Linked DNA regions of Homo sapiens: regions 1 and 3 are each linked to region 2. Evidence: fine-mapped expression QTL. A gene starts in region 2. Each other region holds a variant in brackets. All regions are shown on one strand. Distances are between the middles of the regions.

Region 1 (8,181 bases), 300 kb before region 2:
GTATTTACCTATAAACAAATACTAAGCTCTATTTACATCCACACAGGAATTCCCCAAGGTAGTCATAATACTCTTCAAATCCCTAGTCAAATTTCATTTTAATGGAACGGTTCAGATAAAACCAACCACTCTGTGTTTGCCACATCCGCTCAGTAAGAATTCAACATTCTTGCCAGAAAGCAAAGAGAATGTTGTGATTTCACCCTGCCACTCCCTATATCTCAGCATTTCCAAAGACAAGCCCCACAGACCAGACCAGATTTGGTTTAGTTATGGAGTAGCACAGGAGGAATTTGCTCTAATCCGCTTCAAGATTGCCTCAGTTACTGAAAGTTATTTGTTGACGCAAAATCTAGATTAAGCAAAATGTGCTAGGAGGAGAATTGCTTTGTACTGCTGACATGAAACAACCAAGAGTTATCCAGAGATCCCCTTTTGTTTTAGGACTTCTACAGATTTGTCCTAAAAAAAATAAGTACTCTACCTCTTAATTACCACAAAAGAATATGCAAATGACACCTAACAACCCAGCTTAGATGAGTCAAGATGGACGGGCAGAAGAATGCAGTTTCTAAGGGCATGAACTCTGAAGATGGGCTACCTGGTTCACTCCTGGCTCAATCTCTGACTAGCTCTGTGATCTTGCACATCTCTGTACCTCTGTACAGTTTCTTTATCTCTACAATGGGAAGCTCCCAAAGTTGCTATGGGTATTGACATCAACAATGAGTTGATGTGTGTTACGTTCTTAGCATGGTACCTGGTTAGTGGTTTGCCATTGTCACAACTTCCACGGCTTTGAAAGATTCTCAATGGGAAGAGAAGTGAAAGACACCTGAACTCCCAGCTCAGGTGAATGGCAGTCTCCACTACACCCCGCCAGTCTGACTTCTGAAACCTGGCTGTCAGCTTTTCCTCTTGCTCCACTGCCAACACTTCGAACCCCTACATTCCTGAAGATGTAGATGCTAGAAACTGGACTGGATATCAACTGACCCCATAGAGCCCCATGGGAGTCAAATTTCTAAAATAAATAGTGCCAACAAAGTGAGAGTAAGTTTGCTCATATTCAGCCACCCAAGAAATGTCACATTTATTTATTTTAATCAAATCCAACTCTGAGCAATGGTTTCAAGATCCTGTCTCAGTACCTACTGGGGTTTTCTGACCTACCAGGGTCAAACAAAGAGCTGACATGATCTCTTGAAGTCTGAGTGCCTGGTACTTCCCAGCCTGTGTAAGGGGCAGAGGAATCCAATTGGTGCTGGAGCCAGTAGCCTCATTCCCTGGGGTTCAGTCCTTCTGGGAACTCTACACAACCATTTCTGCCCATGTCTTATTGCTAACCTGGGGTGTGGACAGAGAAGGGTGAAAATGCTGTCACTTGGTGGGTTCACCAATCTCTAACAGCCCCCCAGGCTTGGGATATCGTCTGCTCCCTCTCAGCTTCCACTTGACACCCCAAGATCCCTCATGTCTCTCTTCTCTGGGAGTTCACAATCTAAAAGACCTGTTGGAAAGAGAAACTTGGGATAAAATGAATAAAGTACAACAGAGTCTCACCCAACTGTATTCCTCTACCAGAGGACAGACCACAGATTACTGTCTTAACATATACCCTGACACACCAGCTGTGTGCCTTGGCTTGCTAATGTTTCTTGTAAATACTAATGTAGCAACATAATTTTGGTGAATCTAGGGTCCTGGTTATCTACTTAATCAGGCTTCAAAGTGCTTTATTTTCAGTGCACAGGGAAGAACCCTAACTGCTTACATTGTCTTGCTGACAGAAAAAGCTGATCTTATTTAAGAGTGGCAAGCATTACCTGGGCCCAGTTGGATACAGATATATCAGAAATGTATGTGTCTGTTTGTACACCTGAAAGCATCTCCCCAAAAGGGGGCTTTCAGCACAGGTGGCTTCCACTGCCCTCCTCCATCCCATCCTCATAGCAGACTGCCAAGAACCCTCTGGGTTACATGCACGTACATAGGCCCAGAATTGGTGGTGTGGAGGCAGGGACAGACAAGAGGACAGCAAAGAAAATAGACAAAAGGAAGACCCTGGACAAACTCATCCCCCCTTTATCAAATAATCTTAAACTATATTCACGTGTGTTATCTCTTTTGATCCTCACGACGACCCTGGGAAATAGAACTGACAATTTCCTTAGAGATGAAGAATCCACAACAGGCAAGAAGTAATTTACGTGCCCAAGATCATCCAAAGAGCATGTGAGGAAACTACACAGCAGTGTGATTGTCCCAATCCCTGGCTACAGTTGCTTCTTTTCATTAATGATGATGCTTCTCCTCCATAAAACTCAGCCCAGTCGCAAAGTCATTTTCATATCTATTGCATCATTTAATTCTCTCCCAAAAATCTAGAAGGAAAGCACTATTATCACTGCATGGGAGACAAAAGGTCAAACTGATGGTTGGCCCATAGTGACAGGAACATCTAATAAATAAAAAAGGAATTCTGGTCTCCAAATTCTCTGCTCCTTCCTCTACCTCCGAACTGTCTTTCCATGGGGCTCTATTCCATTGTCATTTGACTACCAAAAACATCATCCTCCAGAATCAGGATGACCGCACAGCATCAAATATGTGCCTACTGTGTCCCAGGCACTGTCCTCACATTGAGAATACAAAAGGCAATGAAAGAACCCCTTATGGGGGTCAAAGATCAGTGGGGGAGGCAGACTCGTGAACAGATAATTTGCTGTAAGCAACTAGTGCTGTAATCGAGGCATGCACGAGTACTCTGGAAATTCAAAGTCAGGGAGATTCACTCCACCTGCCCGGGAAGAGGGTGGAGGTGATGGGGCTCCAGGAGGCTTCAGTGGTGGTACTGACGCTTTCCACAATATTACCCAAACTTGGGAATCAGCTTACACACGACGCAAAAGCCCAGAGAACAAAAATAGTTTTACCTCCCGCAGTTTAGTGAGAGTCATGGAAATTACAAGTGCAAAAAAGCACAAAAGAGAGTGATCAGCTATACTGCTGACTTTTTCCTACTTTTGACAACTTAAATGAAATTGTCCTGAGTCATACTTACTACAACCTTTGACATTTCTTAGACTTTTAACAGGTACAAATCCTCAGCAGCCATGTTGTTTATCTAAATTCAGCCCAGAGTCTGTGTCATGGTTGCCATTATATCCTGTGCAAGGAACATGAAAGGGCCAAATTTAGTAGCAGATGATGAGTGTCAGGTCCAGGAGTTTCCGAGAAGCTTATGAAATCCTCTGTCTTGTTTACACTACATTAAAATCTCCCTTCCCCAAGCCCGTCCTTCTCCGAAGGCTGAG[G/A]TGCTTATCCTGGAGCCACTACTTCCTGCAGCTTGAAGATGAGTAAACCATACCCGCCTGCCCCAGGGGTACCCTCTGGGATTCTGGGCAGCTCAGGGAATCTGCCCTGCTGGCATCATCATTTCCCTGAACCAAGTTCCCAAAACAACACAGTAATGACAGAAGAAAACCAAAGTGGCATAGATGGTACAGGTATACATAGCACCTGGCCCTGGGTTATCTTAAGCAGGTGGTCTTCCACGTAAATCCAGGGGACAGACAGACACAAGAGAGTTACAGACTAGCCCTTGTCTAAGGTTGGGTGCATTTTCCTAATGGGATACCACATGCCTGGTTACAGCAACCTAAGGAGAATGACTGAATTGTTCTGAGCTCAGGAAGAAACATTAAAAAGCTGGCTGCAGTTTGTTACATCCCTAACTTGTCCAGATATTAATATTTTAAACAGCAGGACTGACAATCCTCTTGATCTCTTGATACTCATCTATTAACAAAGTAATTTTTCCCCTGTGGCACTCAAAAAAATCTTTGCGTTTGAATTTTTTTAAAAGTCATGGCTCACAAATATTTTGTAACATTTGCACCCCGTTCTCTAGAAGGGATCACTCCCTTGTTCTCACTGTTTTACTGGCCTCCTGAGTGCTATGCCCACATACAGCAGTAATCTAATTTCCATCTGGTCAACCTCCAGGAGCTATTTTGAGTCTGGCCTGAATTTAGTCCACTTTTCCTGCCAGTGCAGACTCAGGCCCTCTACTCTCCTGGGGCTCTTTTCTCTAAAGAAGCTTTTGAAAAATACAGGCTTCCTACAGGGCCAGGGTCACTGCCCATCTCAGCTTGGAGTGGTGCCAGGAGATGCTAAGTACTACCCTACTTGCCACTGGGGAAAGACAGGAAAGGCAGGAGCTGGCCTTCCCATCCTCAGCTCTCACGGTTCTTGTCTCTCTCCCTGGCTCTGCCCCCAGCCATTTGCTCAATCCTGCAGGATGCTGAGTGCACCCTGCTAAGTGTCTGATCCTTTGCTCCCATTTGACCCTGTGCCTGGAGTGTACTTGCAGTTGTCTAGCTAACTCCTGCTGGCCTCTTCCTCATCCCCAAGATGGCTCAGGTACTCCTCATTGGTTTTTCTTTAGCCTCTGCCACATCAGGGCATCCACCTCACCATCTAGAACCAGCCCTTTTACTTGTCTGTCTCCCACCCCTTCATGCTAGACTGTGATCTCCCTGAAAGTGACACTGTGCTCTGTTATCCCTCGCATCCTAAGTACCAGACACATAGAAGACGTCCCATATACTTTTGCTGAATTGAATTCAATTGCCCTAGAAAAGAAAAGTGCCTAGAGGAAATGATTAAAAAAAAAAAAAAAAAAAAAGGAGGATTGGAAGAAGTGAAAAGAAAAAAAAAAGCATTTGGTGGAAAGTCAGAGGGCACCTCCAAACACTGCCTCAACTGTCATGCTTGACTTTGTAAGTGGACTAACACCAAGCTGATGATGAATCAGTCGGAAACGATGATGCTATCTCCAACCCCTACTGCCTAGAGAAAGGGTTTCCAAGTCCAGTACCTCCAGGGGCAAGTAGGCAACCTCACTGTGAGGAAGTCAGCCAGATATGAAACAGCAGGGAGTGATGGAATCATGGAAACCCTGTGCAGAGAGCCTCCTAGACCAAAACATTCAAATTCAAATCCAAATGCAGGCAAAGCCAGCCTGAGGTCCCGATTCATGCTCTGCTGGCCAGATCTAGAAGGATAGTGCTCTGCATTGCAAAAAGTACCTCTAGCCTGGAACAGGACCTGTCCTCTTTGATTTTTCTACATTTCACAGGTTTAAATTAAGTACACTCAAAGGTGTTATTTGTAGCAATATCCTAACTACATTGAACTACCATTTAACATGCTGTTTCTACGGGAAACATGTATTGCAAGTTCTAACTCTAAGTGCTAGGAGTGTCCCAGCATCCATCCCATCTTTGGTGATGACAGCATCCATGGAATCAACATCTGAGGTACAGAACGTCACTGGGGAGGCCAGGAGAAAGCTCCTGGGTGCAGATAGCTTGTGATGGCTCCATATCTCTGTATATATCTCAACACGACCCTCACACTCGATACTCCAGGCATGTCCACCTATCTACAGAGGGCCCGCCATCCTCATTTCTTCACCACTGCTGTGTGCCATGCTACATCCTCTGCCTCACCTTCACCCAGCTGCTTGTTTTTATCCTGTGGGCCACTTCTTTTCCTAACCTCTTCCCCGCTCTGTTGTCTGACACTCCAAAGCCACCAGAGCATGTTGTACTTTCCCCAGTGTGGTGCTTCTCCACACTGGATTGTGACTGTCATTTGTGGTCAGCATCTCCCCCAGACTGGTAGGAGGAGGAGAGGGTCGGACTCTTCACAGCAGTATCCCCAACACCTGACTGGTGTCACATGCTTCGTGGCCAGCATTGAATGAATGAGCAAATGTATTAACAAAAAATTGAAGGAATGAAGAGATAAAGCAACTTTTTGCGCTAAATCACTGGTATTCTCAAATGGGTCACATGACACACTGTCCTCTCAAGGGACAGAGACAAAGCTTGCATCTGAAACTCCCCATACCTGCACATTCATTGCTCAGTTAACCTTCACAATAACCAACATGAGGTATTTCTTTTACAACAATAAAAAAGTAAATTGATGACTAGAGATATTGAATAAATTGCCCAGCACCATAAAGCTAGTAAATGGCTGAACCCTGAACTCCAACCCAGCTCCCCTGACTGCAAAACCTGTGCTTTCCCACCACACCGGGCTGGCCAGGGGTTAGGAGCTCACTGATGCCTGATGGCAAACATACTCCTGCTGTCGCTGCTGCTGCTCCCACTCCTGACTTCAGTATTCCAGGCTCACACAGCCAAATCAGCTCTCAGAAGAAGTCAACCCCAGAGTAGATTCTGGGTCACAGCTGTTACAATCAGGAAGTTGGTCTTTAACCCCAGGTAGAAGCTTCACTTCACTAGGGTGGGATCTTTGAACACAGAGCATCCCTTCCATCTGCTGTCCCACACCTGCCTCCCTATGCCTATTCTCATCAACACATATTTAAAACCTTTGAAGGACAACCTCAAGCCACATGCAAAAAACTTCCTAATTATTAGGGAGCGAATTTGCAATATTTTAGTATATATAAGTAAGAGTGAATGAAAGAGACATAGAGGCCGAGGGAGAGGCAGAGAGAGAGGGAAACAGAAAGTGAAAGCAGAGGCAGAGTTATGCATAACAGGTTCTAAAATACACTATTTGGTAGGGGTGTAATGATGACGCACATTGCTAGAGAAAAGAACAAAATGGAGGAAGCTCTCTGGCGTCTATGTGCCTTATAAAATTATTAATTTAACCAATCCCTAAAGTCATGAAGTATTAAGTGACAAGTTGTCTAGCTACAATAGTATGAGTCAACTACTGCATATTCCACTCTATTTTAACATTGAAGCCTAAGATGATTTAGGCTAACAAAGTCATTTTCCAAACAAATCTAAAAATCAAATCTTCATACAAGAAAAGAGGGAGAAGCACCAGACTTTAACCCCAAATGGCAGCCAGTCTTTATGAGATTCTGTTACAGGGTCTGTAAAACTCTGAGCCAGCTGCATGGAAAGGACCCAGGACCACTCACACTGACTGATGTGGTCTTTGAAAATGTGCCAGCAAGGCTTACAGAGAAGGAAACCAGAGCTTTTCAGAACTCAGCTCCTCTGCACAGCGACACAGTGAGATGGACAAGGGCTGCTCTACTGAATTTGCAAATGTGAATTTAACCCACTTATGAAAACAGTACCGGGCATGGCTATATCACTTATCAGCTCATCAAGTTTGTTCTGGAGGGGAAGCAGTTTTGTGTGGCCCCACTATCAGGCACCAGCCTCATAAAGAAGCAAGCAGCACAAATCCTAAATTCTGTGGTGTTTAATGGAGGCCATGTCAACACAACAGCGGGAAAGAGAGGGACTCTCTACCAACCGGTATACTAAGACATAATCTAGAGGCCAAAGGACTCCAGATAAATTACCCATTGCCCAAAACAAAAGGAAGTCTTTTGATAAGAGAAATATTTACACCTGGGGAGTAAGCCATGGTCCCAGGAAGAAAATGTCTTAAAATGAACTTTGCATCTATTTAGTTTTGCATTTTCAGTCCCCAAATACCCCATCACTGTTTTCCTGTTTTCTTTTTCTCTCCCATGAGCTCACTATCCCTTTGCAAATTTAGGGGAAATAGGACTGCTGTTGACTCTGCAGCTGCAAAAAAAAAAAAAAAAAAACTTGCTAAGTGGAAGAAACCATTTAAAAAGGGCCACATACTGTATGATTCCATCTACATGTTACATATTTATAGCTGTCCCTCAGTTCTTGGATTTTCTGGTCTAATTTTTTCCATCTTTTTCTTTCCAGTTTGGAAGTTTCTGTTGAGATATCCTCAAGCAATTCTTTCCTCAGCCTTATCTAGTCTACCAATGAGCCCATCAAAGACATTTGTTATTTCTGTTGAAGTGTTTTTGAAGCATTTTCTCTTGTTTCTTGGAATTCCCATCTCCTGGGTTACATTGCCTTATCTGTTCTTGCTCTCTGTCTACTTATCCAGTAGAGTCAAATATTAATCATATTTGTTTTAAATTCCTGATCTAATAATTCCAACATCTCTGCCACATGTGAGTCTGGTTCTGAGGCTTGCTCTGGCTCTTCAAACTGTGTTTTTTTCAGTTTTAGTATGCCTGGTAATATTTTTTTTTTAACTTAATTTTCTTGATAGCTGGGTATGATATACTGGGTAAAAGGAACTGCTGTAAACAGGCCTTTAATAATGTGGTGGCGAGGTGTGGGG
Region 2 (8,181 bases):
CCCTATTCCTATAGTTAAAACTCTAGTTGAAAGTAGCATCATCTGACTTTAATTGCCTGGAAGGGCAAGCTGTGGAAAATCCTATCATGTCCTACCAATAGGAGGAAAAAGAGGTGAAAGTCAAGCCAGGAGACCACAAATGGCAATTACAAAATCATGGCAAGTTTGAATTCAAAATGAGTGTTTTTGTTTGTGTATTTTACCCGTCTTTTGTTTCTCTAAACTTAGCATCCACATAATATAGCTGTTTTTATAGAGGCTTCACTCAAATCATAACCTTTTGACTTAAAAAACATTAATATTTGTGGTAATTCTTTTAAAATTAGTTGAGTATTAGCATGATAAAATTAAAGGTTTAACAATAATAATGGAACAATTAAGGAAACTACCTCCTAAAAGTTTATCTTTTAGAGTACAGTTTTGTACAAATAATACAGAATACATTTGGTTAGGTAACAAGGTTTTAATTACCTGACTATTAGAAAAATAATAAAAATCTTGAAAGATAAGATTTTATCAATTTAACCATGTCTTTATCTTACCTTTTAAACAACTAAATAACACAAACCTCACTGAAACATTTGACCTGTTTTCTTTTTCTAAAATTACAACTATTTTGCAATATGCTCAATTTTTCCAAAGCAAAACCCACAAACATACATATAGAATATAAATGCTTAAATTCGCTTGATGAAAGTTCAATCACAAAACCCTCCAACTAATACTAAAATAATTAAATATCTTGCACGCTTACTCCAAATTCCACCGTGAAAATGATGTCTTTTCATAACTCCTATAATAGCATTTTAATCAAGGTTAGTAACAGACTGGAAAATTTGTGAAAAGAACATTACTTTAAAAATCAACATGAAAGATTTCACAACTTTTTTAGCCAGTCAGCTTCAAAGACACAATTTGATTCAATAAGCGTTACTGGCATATTATTTCCAATCTACGTGAAAAAACGCTTGGTTTAATAATGTACTTTAGGCTTTCTGTATCTTTTTGGTAAGGAAAGAAAGGAACAGGTGGAGTAGATTAGCCAGAGACCAAGGTCTTATTTTCACGCCTCTATAAATTCAATCCTCCAAGACTTACTTTCTCTGTTCTTTAAAATGGCTACCACCTTGATCTACCATGCAAAAGAAAAAATGTTCAGCATACTATCAAGATAAGTCTGGTTATTTTGATAGTTTATGTCCTCCTTTCCCACAAAATAAGATTCCCATTCCTTTACTGTTCAGATAAAATGACCATTAAATAAGTACGCAAAAGTTGGTCAGTTGGAGTATGAGGGCAACCTATATAACCCAGATTAAGTCATCTTTCCTACCATATCTGACTAGGAAAAGTAGGCAACAATATCTTTCACAGACTAAGATCAAACACAGTAGAAATGAAAAAGGGATGTCTAGTAAAGGAGAACAAACGTGGGAACCACAACCCCCCAAGAGATTATTTTAGCAGCTCAAAATAGATTAACTATTATGTGGGTTAGCAAAAATTAAGCTTTCCATAATATTTCTAAAAAGCATTTTAGAGATAATAAAACCACTTGGCGCCCCCAAACCTGTTTTTAATGTGAACACATGCTCAACAACTATTCTGAAAATATTGTTTACATATTACTATTATTTCCTACTCCCTCTGAAACCATTCCATAACTCTTGCTCTATAAAACTTCCCATAAAAATGCATTTTTCACATACAAAACACAATATACAATGTTTTAGAGTCATTTTGTGCATACATATAGCTACTAAATAGATTAACTTCAAATCTGTTGAATGTCTCCAGAAATATGACATGATCTTACCTCTCATCCTCGCCATCCACCAGGGGTGTCGTCAGCGGTAGCACCTTCAACGGGAAAAGAGAAGCAGAGGCTGCTAGGCTGCTGCTACTCCCATCTGAAACTGCTGACATTCCCCCACTGTCACCACTGATAGTCTGAGGTAAGCCAACTAAGGAGGGCTCCGCTGCACGCCTGGCATCTTCAATTTGGCTTCCAATTGCCTGAGCTAATGATTGTGCGGAGAACTGGGTAGAACTTAGTGGTATCTGTTGTGCCAAAGGCAAATTTGTATTAGTTGCTATCAAGGGAGGTTGACTAACACTTTGAACCAAATTACCATTTTGGGTAGCAGGGGTTTGTGCTATATTTTGTGGTGGAACCAAGTTTGTTGGGGCAGAAGGCATTCCAGAAGGACCAGTTGAACTAACCTGACTTGTAACAGAAATACTACTAGCAGAGGGCAAAGAACTAACTGCAGGCAACTGCTGTGAAACAATTCCTTGAGCTACTGGTTCTACTCCTTGTGGCTGGGGAGGCACAGTTAACAAGGAACTTTGGGATGCAATAACCAATTGTTGAGGAAGGCTTGGAGCACTAGTTTGAACTCCCTGATGAATAATCCCAGTTTGAGCAGGTGGAACCACTTGCGAAGATGGAGGAGCACCCTGCTGAATAACTGAAGGTGGAACCTGGGTAGAGGGCTGCTGCACTGCAGTAGGTATGTTTGCTTGCTGACCAATATTTGCAATCTGACTGCCAGTAGGTACAGCAGACACTGCTGCCGGAGCCTGGCCAACAGGCTGGACAGATGCCCCTGCAGGTTGTGCTGGGACTGCTGTGGGCTGCACTGGCAGCTGGATACCCTGTGGCTGAGCCACAGGAATCACTGTTGTTCCTGCTCCTACTCCTGCAGAACTGGGCTGTCCGGAGGACATTGCTGTTTGAAGAATTGGCTGCTGTTGTACATACTCTGAAGCAGGATTTTGAGTCACTGATTTGACATGGCCTGGGGCCATCTGTGTAGAAACCATTGGTTGCTGTTGTCCATACTGTAACTGTTGGGGTGGTGGTGCCCCTGGAAGGGGAGTTTGCACTGGAGGAGCCGCCTGAGAATATGGTAGCTGGGGTTGAGCCAAACTGGAAATGGAAGGCTGCTGACCTAAAGCTGAAGTTACACCAACCACATTTACAGGCGATGGCTGGATACCAGTTGCAGCACTCATAGTGGCTTGCAGAGGTACTGGCTGAAGACCTTGCTTTTGCTGATAGCTCAGTTCTTGAGACTGTAATTGTACTTGTGAGATCTGTGACTGAGAAATACTCTGTGGTATACTAACTGCTGGAATACTCTGTGGACCAGTGCTACCAAAATCCATCTGTTGGAGGGTCACACCTTGGAGAGCTGGTTGTTGCTGTTGTTGTTGTTGTTGCTGCTGCTGCTGCTGCACCACCACAGTAGGGGCTCCCATCTCTCCACTTCCCACACTCTCTGTATAGTGACTCAGTGTGCTGACACTACTGCTCACTGAACTCCCACTAGTGCTCTCCCTTTCAGAAGTCACTTCTATCGGATTTTGCTTTACAGTCTCCACCACTTTATTTATCAGCACACCTTCTGTAGCAGGTACAGCATTTTCTTTTTCATAGAACTCAGTGCAAGTCCATCTACCTTTTTTAAAGGGCTCAGAACTAGAATCTAACTTCACAACTCTGAACCTCGAAGTGTTAACTGTTGGTTGTTGCTGCTGACTTGAAACCGATCCCCCAGTCATCCCTGCAGCTGCATTAGGAACACTGCTAACAGCAGCAGAGGAAGAAATAGTACCATTGCCCATGCCACTCAAGATATTCACATTAACACCACTGGTAACTCCAGGCCCAACACTCACACCAGCAGCACTAGGAATATTGCTTGTACTTATATTAACATTACCAAGCATGCTGCTTGTCACATTAGGATTAAAACTACCCACAGCAGTAATGTTAACATTATTTACTGTACTAGTGCCAGTAACAGAATTTATACCTATTCCACCTGTAGTACTTGGAGCACGCATATTAGTCATTACAGATGCAGGTGAACCACTGGATGATACAGCAGAAGTTGGTGCAACTGGTGTGATACTGTCAGAGCTTCCAGTTGTAGAGAGTTTTCTAGATACTGGGCTTGAGGGTGGCCCACCAGTAATGGATGCACTGGCCACAGCAACATGAGATGGATGGTGGTGACCATGTTGGAGGTGGTGCCCATGATGAATCTGATGGTGGTGATGGAGGTGGTGTGGATGAGCATTCCCATTGATCACAACATTCTGTTGTGGAAGGTGAGGCAAATGAGGCTGAGGAAGGTGGGGCTGGTTGGGAGAGACTGCCCCAGGTGTCTCGGCTTCCTGGAAGTTATTTAGGGTCTCTTCTGAGGAGCTGCGTTCGGGCTCCCCTAAGTCAGTAGCCCTGGAAAGTGACACATCAAGGATCTCCGAAGAAGAGAGATCTTCCGTGTGAGATTCATCCAGATCATCATAGCTCTCAGTGTCCTCTGCTATACTGTTGTTAGAGCTGATACTAGCGGAGATCTGAGCAGGAGTAACGCTAGTTATCTGGAAGCCACTTTTCTTTTTCATTTGAGTTCCGCCTGGCGCAAGAGGCTGTGCCTGCAGCTGAGCCTGCGAAAGGAGGTTCAGGCTTTGTGGAGGCGGAGGCTGTGGTCCCGACGTAGAAGATGCTGCAGGGGGCGGCGGCTGAAGCAGCGACGGAGGCGGAAAATCCTCGGAAGATGTGGCATTACTACCGACGCCGGTACCTGCTGCATTGAGAGCAGAGGCGCTGCCACTACCGCTGCCCCTTCGAGGGAACATTGCCGGGTGCGCCATCTTCCTAGCGCTAATGTCTGCAGCGGCGGCGGCCGCGGCGGTGGACTCAGGCGGCTGGTGCATTGTGTTGGGTACCGGGGGCGCGGAGGAGACGAGTGCAATTTCCTTCTGCACCGTAATCTTTGTATTGGAGACGCCGGAGAGGAAAACGGGACCTGACGCTCCGCCTGGCGCGATTCCTCCTTCTCCTCCTCCTCAGCCAAAGGCGCCGGTCGCTCCTGCCTTCGAGAGCGAGCTTCGGAAAGGAGGATGAACGAGGGTGAACAGGGCGGCCGGGGACCCGAAGGGGGGATCCCTTCAGTCCTTCGCCATTCACTTTCCCCTCTAGCCTCACACCCCCCTTTATATTCTGCTTCACGTGGGGTGCGGGGCAGGAGGGAGGGGGAGAGCGCAGGAAGGGGAGGAAAAGCGAGAAATGCCCACCTTCTCCGGCCAACTCCGAAGCCGCCTCAGCCCCCTCCTCCCGCCGCGTCGGCGGCCGCTGCAAAGCCCTCCCGGCCGCTCTGCACGGAGGCAGCGCCAAGCAAATGTCGCCTTCCCCTCGCCACCCCCGGGGCCGCCGCCGCCGCCAGCGAGCCCCGAGCTCAGTGTCGCTCAAACCTCCCCTCCCGGCCCCGCTCGGCCCTCCCCCCGCGCCCCGCAGACCCTTTCAAACCCCCTGGGCTCGCGGCGGCTGCTCGGTGAGGAAACGCTGGCCGCGGCTGGGGCCGGGGCGACGCGGCTGCGAGCGGGGCGGCGGCGAGGCGCCCGGTACGGTGAGCCCAGCAACGAGGCGCGGGCGGGCGCGCAGAGACGCCGGGTCCTCGCGGAGCACGGCCGGGGCGCGGCGGCGGCGGTGGCAGCGGGAGCCCAGGGACCGCTCCATCACTGGCAGCCATGGAGCCCGAGCATTTTCCTCCCTCAGGGCAGGCGCCTCGACTCGGCACACGTCCTCGGGGAGGAAGGGGCCGGCACCCGAGCCTCTCCGGAGGGCGGCGGGACGTGCGCTAGGGCGGAGGGTGCGACCCTCTCTTATCCTCTTCCTCCGCAGCCGGCTCTTCCTCACCCCGCTGCTCCCGCGACCGGGCGGGAGAGGGCCGCAGGCGGCGGCGGCTCCTTTCTCCGCGGCGTTGGTGGCCAGACGGGCTGGTGCAGCGACTGCAGCCGACGCCGTTCAAAGGAACGAGGTGGGGTTGGTCGGTGTCGGCAAACGGGGCGGGGGAGTGAGTGGGTGCCGAGGGAGGGTGTCGGGCGGGGAGGGGGCTGTGGTGGTTGTTACTAGTGCTCTTCTTCGGCTCCCCCGGCTCCACCGTATCCCCCAGTCTCTCGCGGCATCGGGAGGGGAGGGACCAGCGCGGAGCGCAGGAGGAGGAGGGGCGACCGCCGGCGAGAGGAGGCGGTGGTGGCTGGGGGGAGGGGGCAGGCGGAGGAGGAGGAGGGAAGATGGCGTCTGCGCATGCGCCTCGGCGCCGCAGACATAAAGCCGGGTCTGGCGGGGCAGGAGGCGGCGGGTCTTCGGGCCTAGGCGAGCGCCAGGTCTCCCGACGGAAATTACCGAAGGCTGGCAGAGGCGCCGAAGCCGGGAGTGGTGGAGCCGGAGGGGATAGTGGGGGTGGGGAATTCCGGCCGAAGGAGCGAATCCGGGTCGGACTGCGTGATTCGGCCCGGTGGGGGCGGGCAGGGTGCGCGCCTGCCGCGCGCCCAGGTTAGGTGTGTCCGCTCTTTTCACACTCGCGGCCGGCGCGCGCGGGCACGCGGCAGAGGAGGGGGCGCGGCGCGGAAGGGCCGGCGGAGGCGGCGGGAGCGCCGGCGCTTGGTGTGCGCGCCTTGGGTGGTGTCCCCCGCCTGCGGAATGGGTAATGAGGCTTTTCTCCGCAGCAACAGCATCACGAGTTTCAGTTCCCAGGAGCCCGCCGCCGCGGCTGCTGCCGCTGCCACGACATGAGTCAGGCTTTCTTCCCTGGCGCGTGGCGGAAACCTCCTCCCCCTCGCCGCACCTGGGCTCGCCCCCGGCCCTTGCCTCCTCGGGGGATGCCCTAGGGCCGGGAGCTGTGGGGTCTATGGAAGGCCGGTGGCTCCCGGTGATAGGTGTTGTCTTTTGTGCAGTGCAGTTGCTGCCATGCGGTCCCCTCGCCCTTCCACGGGCAGGGGCGAGGCGGCCGGGCAGATGTTGCAGCTGTTTCCAGTTAACTGCCTGAGCTCCTCTGGGCTAGGCTCTTCTCTAACGAGGAGTGGTTGCAATCCATCCTTAACTGGAGGACAGAAGCAGGCCGGCCCTGTAATCGACTGACCTCAACAGGTGTCTCCAAGCAGCGACGCCTTTTTCGTTCATCGTCCTGGCTATATCCCCCATTGGTTTGACTCAGGAGGCAAGGTGGTCCGGACATGTGAGCAACACAAATGATAAGAATGCCTTTTAGGGCTAGAAAAGAAAAAGCCATCCGAAATTCCAGTTTTAAAATACACACACACACACACGTTACATTTCATGGGTCCAAATGTAGTTCTACAGAAGCAATGTTAGGTTTGATTGGGGGCAATTTACTGGCGGTTACTTTCTTGGTATTTCATGTCAAAACCTAGTTCTAAGCGTTTCTTACCAATAATCGAGAATGTAAGTCTTTCCCAGGAATTTAAAAATGATAAAGCAAGCCGAAAAACTGTAGGGAGGAATTTTCATTTTGTTAAATTTAGGTTGTTAGGGGAATCAACGCTTATGGTTAGACCTCTGATTCAGGAAGTCTCAAGGATTTACATTCCTATTTCAGAAGATTGTTAAAGCAAAAACGATTGTCATTTGCAGTTTTGATACACCTCTAGTTGTCAGTTCAACTTTTTACCTTTAGTTTTCTCTGAACTCTTCCCCTTGTTCCAAGGGGAAGCTTTCAAAAAGTGAATTATGTCACCATTTGCATGTTATTGAATAGAAGTGCACTCTTAACATCCCATTTATCCAGTGTCAAAGCTATGATACATTGTTGCTTTATGTGGGGTCTCCCACACTGAAAAGAAAAACCCGGACTTCATTTATTTATTTATTTATTTATTTATTTATTTATTACTTTATATTGCTAATGTAAACCTCTGCTAGAAGTAAATAGGCTCTCGCAAATATTCAAAGTGATACAGTAATAAACATCAAATATGTTTGAGAAGACTACTTGTTCTATGATATTAATATGTGATTGGTTGTTTTTATAGAACTATGGCTATTTGTGTTTTCACAAAAATAATTTCTTTTTTACTTTTTGAGCTTTTGTTGCAAGTAATATGCCTGGTTAATCGCTGCCATCCATTGTTGAAATGCAAATTTGACATTCTTTTTCAATAGTTTTTGAATGGAAAATAGAAACTACCCTAACCGATTGAAACTGCAATGGAATGTAGATGGGTGGAATGTCCTTTCTTTGGACTGCAGTATGAAAGAAAATGCTCTTGATCTCTCAAAATGTAGCCTTAAGTCAAAGGTTTTTTGTTTTGTTTTGTTTTGTTTTTTAAGTCAAAGTTTTAAATTACCCCAAACAGCAGCTGTATACC
Region 3 (8,181 bases), 260 kb before region 2:
GCTGGAGACCCAGGAGAGACCTACCCGAAATCCAAAGGCAGGAAAAAAGGCAATGGCTGACAGGCTAGGGGAAGTCTCTCTTCCTCAGGGGAGGGTCAGCCTGTTTGTTCTATGCAGAGCTTCAACTGATGGGATGAGGCCCACCCGCGTTAGGAAGGACCATCTTCTTCACCCAGCCTGCACATTCACATGTTCCTCTCTTCCAGAAACACCCTCACAGACACCTACAGAATAATGTTGACCAACTCTCTGGGTACCCCATGGCTCAGTCAAGTTGACACATAAAATTAACCATCATCATCACATAGACAGGGGCCAGGTCAGCACAGCCACAGCAGCAAGGCAGAAGGAGGCAAGACTGAGTGAGGAGGCTGCAGGGTTGCTGGGAAAGCTAGCTTCAAGAGAGGAACATGGGACATTCTCAGTGAGAAATGGAGATGAGAGACAGACAGGGGTACCAGAGACTGGGAGCCTTTCCAGTGCACAAGATTCCCCTTTATCCTTCCACTCCCCAGTTCTAAACTGAACTGCTTTGAGTGGGTTTCTCTTTTGGATAACTGAACAACCTCTGATTAGAACAAGAACATCGTGGATCTCCTTGAATTTTATTCTCTAACTTTAGCCCAATTCTCTAATTTTAGACCAGCCATTTATCAAGCAATAAACTATACTGCATGTCATGTACTGCCAGGTTAAATACCACATACTCTTCGTTCTTAGATCATTTACATTTATGGTTTTGACTTCTTGCAAGCAACCACGTGCTTAAAATATTTCCATGAGGGTTTGATAAAGTATTTTGATCTGTAAGGCTTAGGTTTAATGAGTGAGCTACTCAATTCCTGAGGGGTCCCATCCATCTGCCCAGCATCCACATCATCATGCCTTTTTTGTTTTCTACTCACTGTTCTTTCAGCATTTTCTGGGGGATGTCAAATGTTAAGAGGTTTTCCTTAATTTGAGAATGTGTGACGGCCCAGTCTGAATGCCTTGCAAAAAGCATAGGTCTACTATACAATGTTACTGACATAACTTTTAGAAATCTCTGTCTCTTCTCCTATGAGCTCTTTGAAGGACATGACCCATGCCTTACACAATTTTGTGGCCCTTATACCTTGAATACAGTACCTGGGACCTCATAGGCAAGCAATGCATTTTTTGGTTAATTCTCTCAAATAGTTCTCATAAAAAGCCCACCAAGTAGATCACATTATTCCCTGTTGCATTAATGTGTTTAAACTAAGCGATGCTACAACAATGTACAACCCCAAAAATCTAAGCATTTGCCTCAACAAAGGTTTGTTTCTCACTCATGTCACACATGTATGATGGGTCAGCTACAGCCCTTGTCCATGCCTTCTTTGCTCCAGGACTCAGTAACAGAGAGAAATGGAGATAGCAGAACCACAATGTCTCTTAAAGCATCTATACAATAGTGGCACAATTCCTCATACTCACTTTTGCCAGCCAAAGTAAATCTCACAGCCAAGCCTGACGTCAATAGGGCAGGGATATATAGTCCTTCGCCAGCAGGAGGGAGGGGTGCCAGAAATCACATGGCCACACCTAGTACAATGCGACAAGGATGCATAATCTTCCCCCAGAGACAGCAAAATGAGAGTGCTAGTACTACACAGCACACCGTCTCCTAAAGAAACTGAGGGGAAGCAATCCGCCTGATCAAGTAGCTCATTAGTGGCAGAATCAGCCTTTAAACATCGTCAGACTCCAGGTTTGAGGATTCCTTCCAGCACACCACAGCTGTTTCTAGGTCTCACTCTGGGACAGAGGCACCTGCCCTGATCCACGCTTTCTGCCACTCTCCAGGAATATTCACGTCAAGATGTCCCACTCAAACATTTGGCCCTTGAATGTTTTATTCATAAGGATCATATGTCCAAAGGAATCTAAGCAAGCCAAGTCAGACAAAATTAACAAGCGTAAATTAAGGAATGTAATAGAGCCAACATTGAAATTCTCAGTAGATGGAGTCATTTAAAACATTTTTTTAGTTTAACCAGACTGAAGATCAAAAGGGGGTTGGTGGCACCTGAGAAGAACAAGAAGCTGTCACCACCCCTTGCCCCGGGAGCAGAAGAGAGATGAATGACAGCGCTGTCTGCTTTCAGCACTTCAGCGTGGCGTCAGCTGTGTCTCTCTGGCCATTGGTCAATTGCATCCTGCAGTAGCTGGAGTGAGGGATCTGGGGAGGACAGGGACTAATGCCCAGGAAAAGCCTGGCACCAATCATTTCAAAAGGGTCTTAACCATGACCTGTTCAGCATTTCCAGAGTTAATTAGTCCCATCACGACGAACATCACCCAGTCCCAAATGGGCACCCTGGTTGCCTGTGGTAAGTGACTTATTTATTTGCCTCTCTCTGGCCAGCAAGTAGCTTTGTTCAAGAAAAAAAAAAAAAAAAAAAAAAAACCTGACCACATACAGATCCTCAATCTAGAAAAGAAATCAGAATTCACTGTTTTTTCTGAATCACTTAATTTCCCTTAAGTTGAATAGATGACATGTTTGGCCTTCAGACGGTGTGGATTATGAAAAGTCAAGCACTCTAACACTTGGCAGCAGAGGCTTCATGGAATACCTACTCCCCACCTCTGCCAATAACATTTTTAAGGAGATTCGGTTTGATTAAACTATACAAGGTAAATAATGAATCCAGCCTGCCCAGGATATATCAGGTTGCATAGTGTGATGAAACACATACCATCCTGAATGTTCTTCCAAAAGAACATGTACAGAAAATGCTGTCCTTCTGCCAGAATACAGGCTCCTTGCCAACCCCCACCACTCTCCACCTTGAGACCAAACACTCAGCAAGCTGAAGCTTGCAGGCCACGGTGACTGGCTCCATGCTGCCTTGGGAAGCCCTACATGACCTCTACATGGTCCTTCTTCAGTATGTGAAGTACAGAGGCAACACCAGGACATTTTGAAGGGCAAAAGAAGGTTCAATGGGGCAATTTCCAAGGCATCTTGCTCCACTGCTGGTAAGCAATTAGCAGGCTTTCTACAGGGACTTCTCAAAAGAGGATCCAGAAGGCAGGCTCAGCATTGCAGCCTGGCTGCAGGCCACAGTGTGGCAGACGCATGTATTCATGGGCATGTCAAATACATCACTTCAATACGAAATTCATAGGCCCAACATTCATCTGCGAGATTGAACACTGGGTAGCTCAAAAGCTAGTCTTCTGAAAGCATCCTACAAAACACCCGAAGTTGCCGTTCCAGAATTGCTATAATTTCACGACTGTGCAAGCTGTACTAGTAGTACACAGGCAAAGGGATAGAAAAAAGATTATATTAATGCTCAAGGGGGAAAAGCAAGATTATAAAGGACTTAGCAGAGCTATGTTCTGATAATAAACCAAGAGCATTTAGGACCCAACCTAGAAAAAAATGGATTTACAGCCGAAGTCTTTCCTGTTTGGGGCTACAGCATCATTCTGTCATTCTAACCACATTTATCCTGAACCTCCCCCCACCACCCGCTGCCCATGTGCTGGCCACCGTGCTGGGATCAACAAAACTGAATGAGACACAGGACCTGATACTGGGGAGCTGACCATCTAGCAGGTGACGTATGGATGGATGAAGCATCTTAGGACATCTAAAGAAAGAGATCACTCCTCCATACTGGTAAGTCCACAGACAGCTTTACGGAGACATTTGAGTAAAGTCCTAAAAAGGGGCAGGGATGCAGCCATGTGCAATGGGAAGAAAATAATTCATCAGCTGTGACCATGAATGTAGATAGAGATGTTTGGGCCTCATCCAGATCCCCTCTCTGCCCTGTGGGGCTCCCATCTCCTGGCTGCTGAGAATTTGGTTGTTCTCTACCCACAGCTGCTCCCCTTTTCTGGAGGTTTGCCCTTGGCTGACCAGAGCACCTCAGCGGGGAGGTTAACCGCACTCTGCCTCTGAGGATGGCCAACAGCCAGTGATGGCACAAAGGGCCAGCCCCCTGGCCTCAAGACAGGCACAATTCTGAAGTGGGCTCATGAAGAGACTACCCAATCCCCCCAGTGGACAGAGCTGAGGTTAATCTCCACCTGAGACCTGATCTTCGCTGAGTTCCTTCCCCTCTTCTATCTTGCTCCTCTCACTCCCTAGTCGATATTTCCTGAGAACACCTCTTCAGTAAAGCACACACATCCAAATCCTATCCAAGGCTTTGCTTCTAGGAGCCCATCCTAGAAGGCAGTAGGCCCCTGGCTTTCCCTCATTCAGCTGCACAGTTGCACTAACAAGGAATTCCTGAGGTGGCCTTCTAGCACCTCTGTAAGCCCCCTATCCTACTCCACCCTTACCCCTCTGCTTCACCCGAAACTGACCCCTCACTCTTTCCCCACCTCATGTCTTATTTTTGTTAGAAAAGCTTACTCCCCACTTACCCATTTCTTTCAAGATCTAACTCTAGTTTTGCTTATTCCAAGGTTTCCCATGCTAGACTCTACCCATGCCCCTTACGTGTGTATTTTTTAACCACTTAAGAGATGTGCCAAAGCATGTATCAATTTTTATTTTTCAGACAATTGAATCAGAACTTAGTCATCCAAATAGATGTTGCCACTTTGAAAATATTCATCTTGGGGGATTAATCACTTCCTTCAATGCAACCACTGCCCATCATAATTTAGGGATTCCTCTTTG[T/G]GGTTTGCCCTCAGTGTATGCATCACCCACTGTTGAACACGGTAGCCTACAGCAATGTCTCAGAGGTTTTAGAACATCATTCAGAACCATGACTGGTGATTGCAGGTTACTAAGAGCACATACATAGATATTTTGTAGTTCCACAATTTACACATCTCCAGCTGTCCCTTGTTGAGTGAAACCCTTTCTCTCATTATGCTGCTCTAAATCCAACCAATTCCAGTGATGGCAAATGGTTGCTCTGTGAAAGTGACTTTTCTTTCCTCTTTGAGACATTTGGATCCATGCCTGATGAGTAATGTAGGTACTGATTCATTCATTCAACAAATATTTATTGAACACTTTCCACATGGCAAGCCCTGTGCTACAAGTGAGGCTGTAAAATCAAATAAAACATGGTTTTTACTCACATGAGGTTTAGAGTCTATCTGAGGAAAATAACAAGTCAATTGACAATGTAGTATAGTTCAGTAAATGCTATAGAGAGATACACATGGGTCTACGGAAGAGAGAGGAGTAAAGGGAGGCTGGAGGAGCAGGGAAGCTTCTGGAGGCTATGTTTTAAAGGGTGATTCAGAGTTTTCTAGATAAAGAAGTTTGGTGGGGTCAATGAGTAGAGGGACTGCTGGTAGGAAGGCATAGATAGAATTCTGAAGCAGAGAAATATTTGAGACACTTCCCGTGAAGGGTGGATTTGGCAGAATGAGCATAGACAAGAGAGGTGGTCAGGCTACTGAGAGGCCAAGAAGGGTTTATCTCCAGAGGCACAGGAAAGCCACTGAGGGATCAGACTGGGGTAAAAACCAACCAACAAACCAAACCCATGTAGCGTGACTAACAACTAATGAGTCATTTTAATGTGTGTGCTCAGTACTTCTGCACATGTGCCATCCTGATGAATCCTTCAACAACTCTATGAGAGACACATGACTATCCTCACTTTCCAGAGGAGGAAACAGAGACTGGGAAAGTTTACTAACTTGCTTAAGATCACACAGGTAGTAAATAGCAGAGTTGGGATTCAAATCCTCGACTCCAAAGCTCAGGATGAGCCTCTAAAAGAAGTCCAGCAAAGGATACGAACAAATACGTCATGTTAAAGGAAAAACTTCAACCGCATTAAATTTAAAGGAGTTTAATTGAGCAATGAATGATTCATGAATCTGGTAGCCCCCAGAATCACAACCAATTCAGAGAGACTCCAGGGGTGCCTCGTAGTCAGAACACAAATTTATAGACCAAAAAAAGGGAAGTGACATACAGAAATCAAAGGTGACATACAGAAACAGTTGGATTGGTTACAACTCTGCATTTGCCTTACTTGAACACAGTTTGAACACTCAGCAGTGTATGAGTGGTTGAAGTATGGCTGCTAGGATTGGCCAAGACTCAGCTATTGTTACAGGTGCATACTCCTAAGTTAGGTTTTCAATCTTGTCTACCTATTAAATTGGTTGCAGTCTGTCCACAAGGACTCAAATATGGAATATATTCTCAGTCTATATTTAGTTTGCTTTAACAATCATTTAAAAGAGAACTTTAAATTCTACATAAATTTACAATGTTCAACTTAGGCACAAGTCAAAGCATTGGAAAGTAAAGCAATAATACTGAATCATTATATACCCATTTAACTAACAGAAAACCTTAGTCATTATGTGCAATGCTGTCTACTTTGCATCACTCGACTGGTATTAATATATTGATGGTCATATTGTAAATGGTCATACATCTTTTGGAAAACAATATAATAATATATACCAAAAGTCAACCCTCTTTTAAAATGTCCATCCTCTTTTACCCACCTCTAGGAATGTATCCCTAGAAAATATTTCAAAAGGAGACAAAAAGTTTATCATTGTAACATTATCTTGAGTAGTGCTAAACTGAAAACAATTTAAATGTAGAGTGGTAGTACAATGGTTTGGTAAATGATCATACAACAAATCAATGGAATATTGTGTAGCCATTTAATATGATCTTTATGGGGATTATGTAACACCATGGGAAAATATTTATAAGAAGTAAACTGTCACGTGAAAAGATAGAATACAGTACACTATTGATATTCACAAGGTGTATAGCCTAATATCTCTGCAAATTCCCAAATAAGTGGAAACCATTGTAGCATACAATTTTCCCTTTAAAATGCAATAGCTAAAAATGTTAAGTAACCCCTCAAGACTCTTAAGGAGTCTATAAACTCAGGATTTGCTTATAAAGCTATAAAAATAAATTCTGCCAATAAAATAAATTCTAGAATGCATTATATTACATCATTAGGCTACTTAACTAAATTTACCTAAATCTGCAAAGAAACAACGTCTTTATCACGTCATGAGAGTTCTTTGCAAGCTTCATATGAAAGCACAAAAGCTGTGTTGAAATGCTGGTCCCACCAATGGTGGGCTGGGCTTGTTTACTGACTGTGTGATTCTTACTTTCTTGCACACCAGCTTTTTGTGTGTGTGTGTTTTGAGACGGAGGCTCGCACGTTCGCTCAGGCTGGAGTGCAATGGTGCGATCTCAGTTAACTGCAACCTCCGCCTCCCGGGTTCAAGCGATTTTCCTGCCTCAGCCTCCCAAGTAGCTGTGATTACAGGTGCCCACCACCATGCCCAGCTAATTTTTTGTATTTTCACTATGTTGGCCAGGCTGGTCTTGAACTCCTGACCTCGTGATCTGCCCCCCTCAGCCTCCCAAAGTGTTGGGATTACAAGTGTGAGCCACCACACCCAGCCCATCAGCTTTAAAATCTAGCCATTTCCAAATCAAAGCCCTCAACATTACAAACCACTGTGATCTTTGAAGTCCTAGGCAAATAATTGAAATTGAGAATGTCAAGTTCAAGAATGCTTCCAATCTACTTCTATTCAGAAGTACATATGCGTTATGATTACAACAATTTGAAAATTTAGACATACAGCCATAGCTGTCCAGAAACATAAAAAACAAAGACAATTGTACTTGGGTGAAAGAAATCTAGGTAGTAGTTTTCTTTTAAAACATTTCTAAGTATTATGTATTTTTTTCACAATAAAATGCACACAAACAATTTATTACCCTGTTGTCATATTCTTGTAGGTTGAACCCCGTTGCCTTTAATCCATTGATATTTTATAGTTTGTAATGTATTTGCAGGGCTTTGGGGTTGCAACAAACGGGTAAAGCCTGGAGAATTAAGCAAGAACTGGCTATAGAAGTAACCACATTATACTTCCTATCCGTATCCCTTGACATTCAACCAGGGATGCCAAAATCAGTGGTGTCTTTGTACCCACATACACTGGTAAGATGCACTAGTACTTTGTTTTCAATGTGGGACCAAGGCTCATTCACTCAAATGACAAAACATGCCTATGATTTCTGTGACCTCACTGATTGATTCGACAGGAACTACAAGTTACATTCAGTGGTTTGATCCATGTGACACTAGGAGGTAGGAAAGAAGGGAGAGGCAGAAAGGACAGAAGGAGGGAAGGAATCATGTATTCATGCTAACATGCACTGCA

Which allele goes with the higher level. Positions count from the first base shown, and alleles are read on the strand shown. Sizes are in standard deviations (SD) of each study's normalised expression. Not every link is listed here.
For the expression in monocytes after Pam3CSK4 of the gene that starts at base 4,984 in region 2, G is the high allele of the variant in region 3 and T is the other (large effect, 0.80 SD a copy in Quach 2016).

What was found. PIP is the estimated chance that this variant, and not a neighbour inherited with it, causes the effect.
Region 1: its variant is fine-mapped to the expression of TSC22D1 in whole blood (TOPMed, PIP above 0.99).
Region 3: its variant is fine-mapped to the expression of TSC22D1 in monocytes after Pam3CSK4 (Quach 2016, PIP 0.95). The same link has a PIP of 0.9 or more in monocytes after LPS and monocytes after R848.

Annotation. Positions count from the first base shown.
Region 1 is chr13:44,267,990-44,276,170 of GRCh38, forward strand. No RefSeq gene overlaps it. Among named protein-coding and RNA genes, the nearest start is that of MIR8079, 76 kb to the left of the region's middle. RefSeq lists an enhancer at 6,473-6,652. The variant G/A (reference allele first, on the strand shown) is at 3,318.
Region 2 is chr13:44,571,347-44,579,527 of GRCh38, forward strand. TSC22D1 (TSC22 domain family member 1) reads right to left here and starts at 4,984. Exons shown (of 3, transcript NM_183422.4): 1 at 1,817-4,984. The coding sequence starts at 4,728. It overlaps TSC22D1-AS1 (TSC22D1 antisense RNA 1), which reads left to right and starts at 4,550. Exons shown (of 3, transcript NR_038381.1): 1 at 4,550-4,924; 2 at 5,696-5,831; 3 at 6,756-8,181. RefSeq lists an enhancer at 4,457-4,696 and silencers at 5,017-5,726, 5,737-5,976, 6,247-6,446, 6,627-6,676.
Region 3 is chr13:44,308,437-44,316,617 of GRCh38, forward strand. LOC107984552 (a long non-coding RNA gene) reads left to right here and starts at 2,806. Exons shown (of 3, transcript XR_001749973.2): 1 at 2,806-3,655. RefSeq lists an enhancer at 3,532-4,731. The variant T/G (reference allele first, on the strand shown) is at 4,670.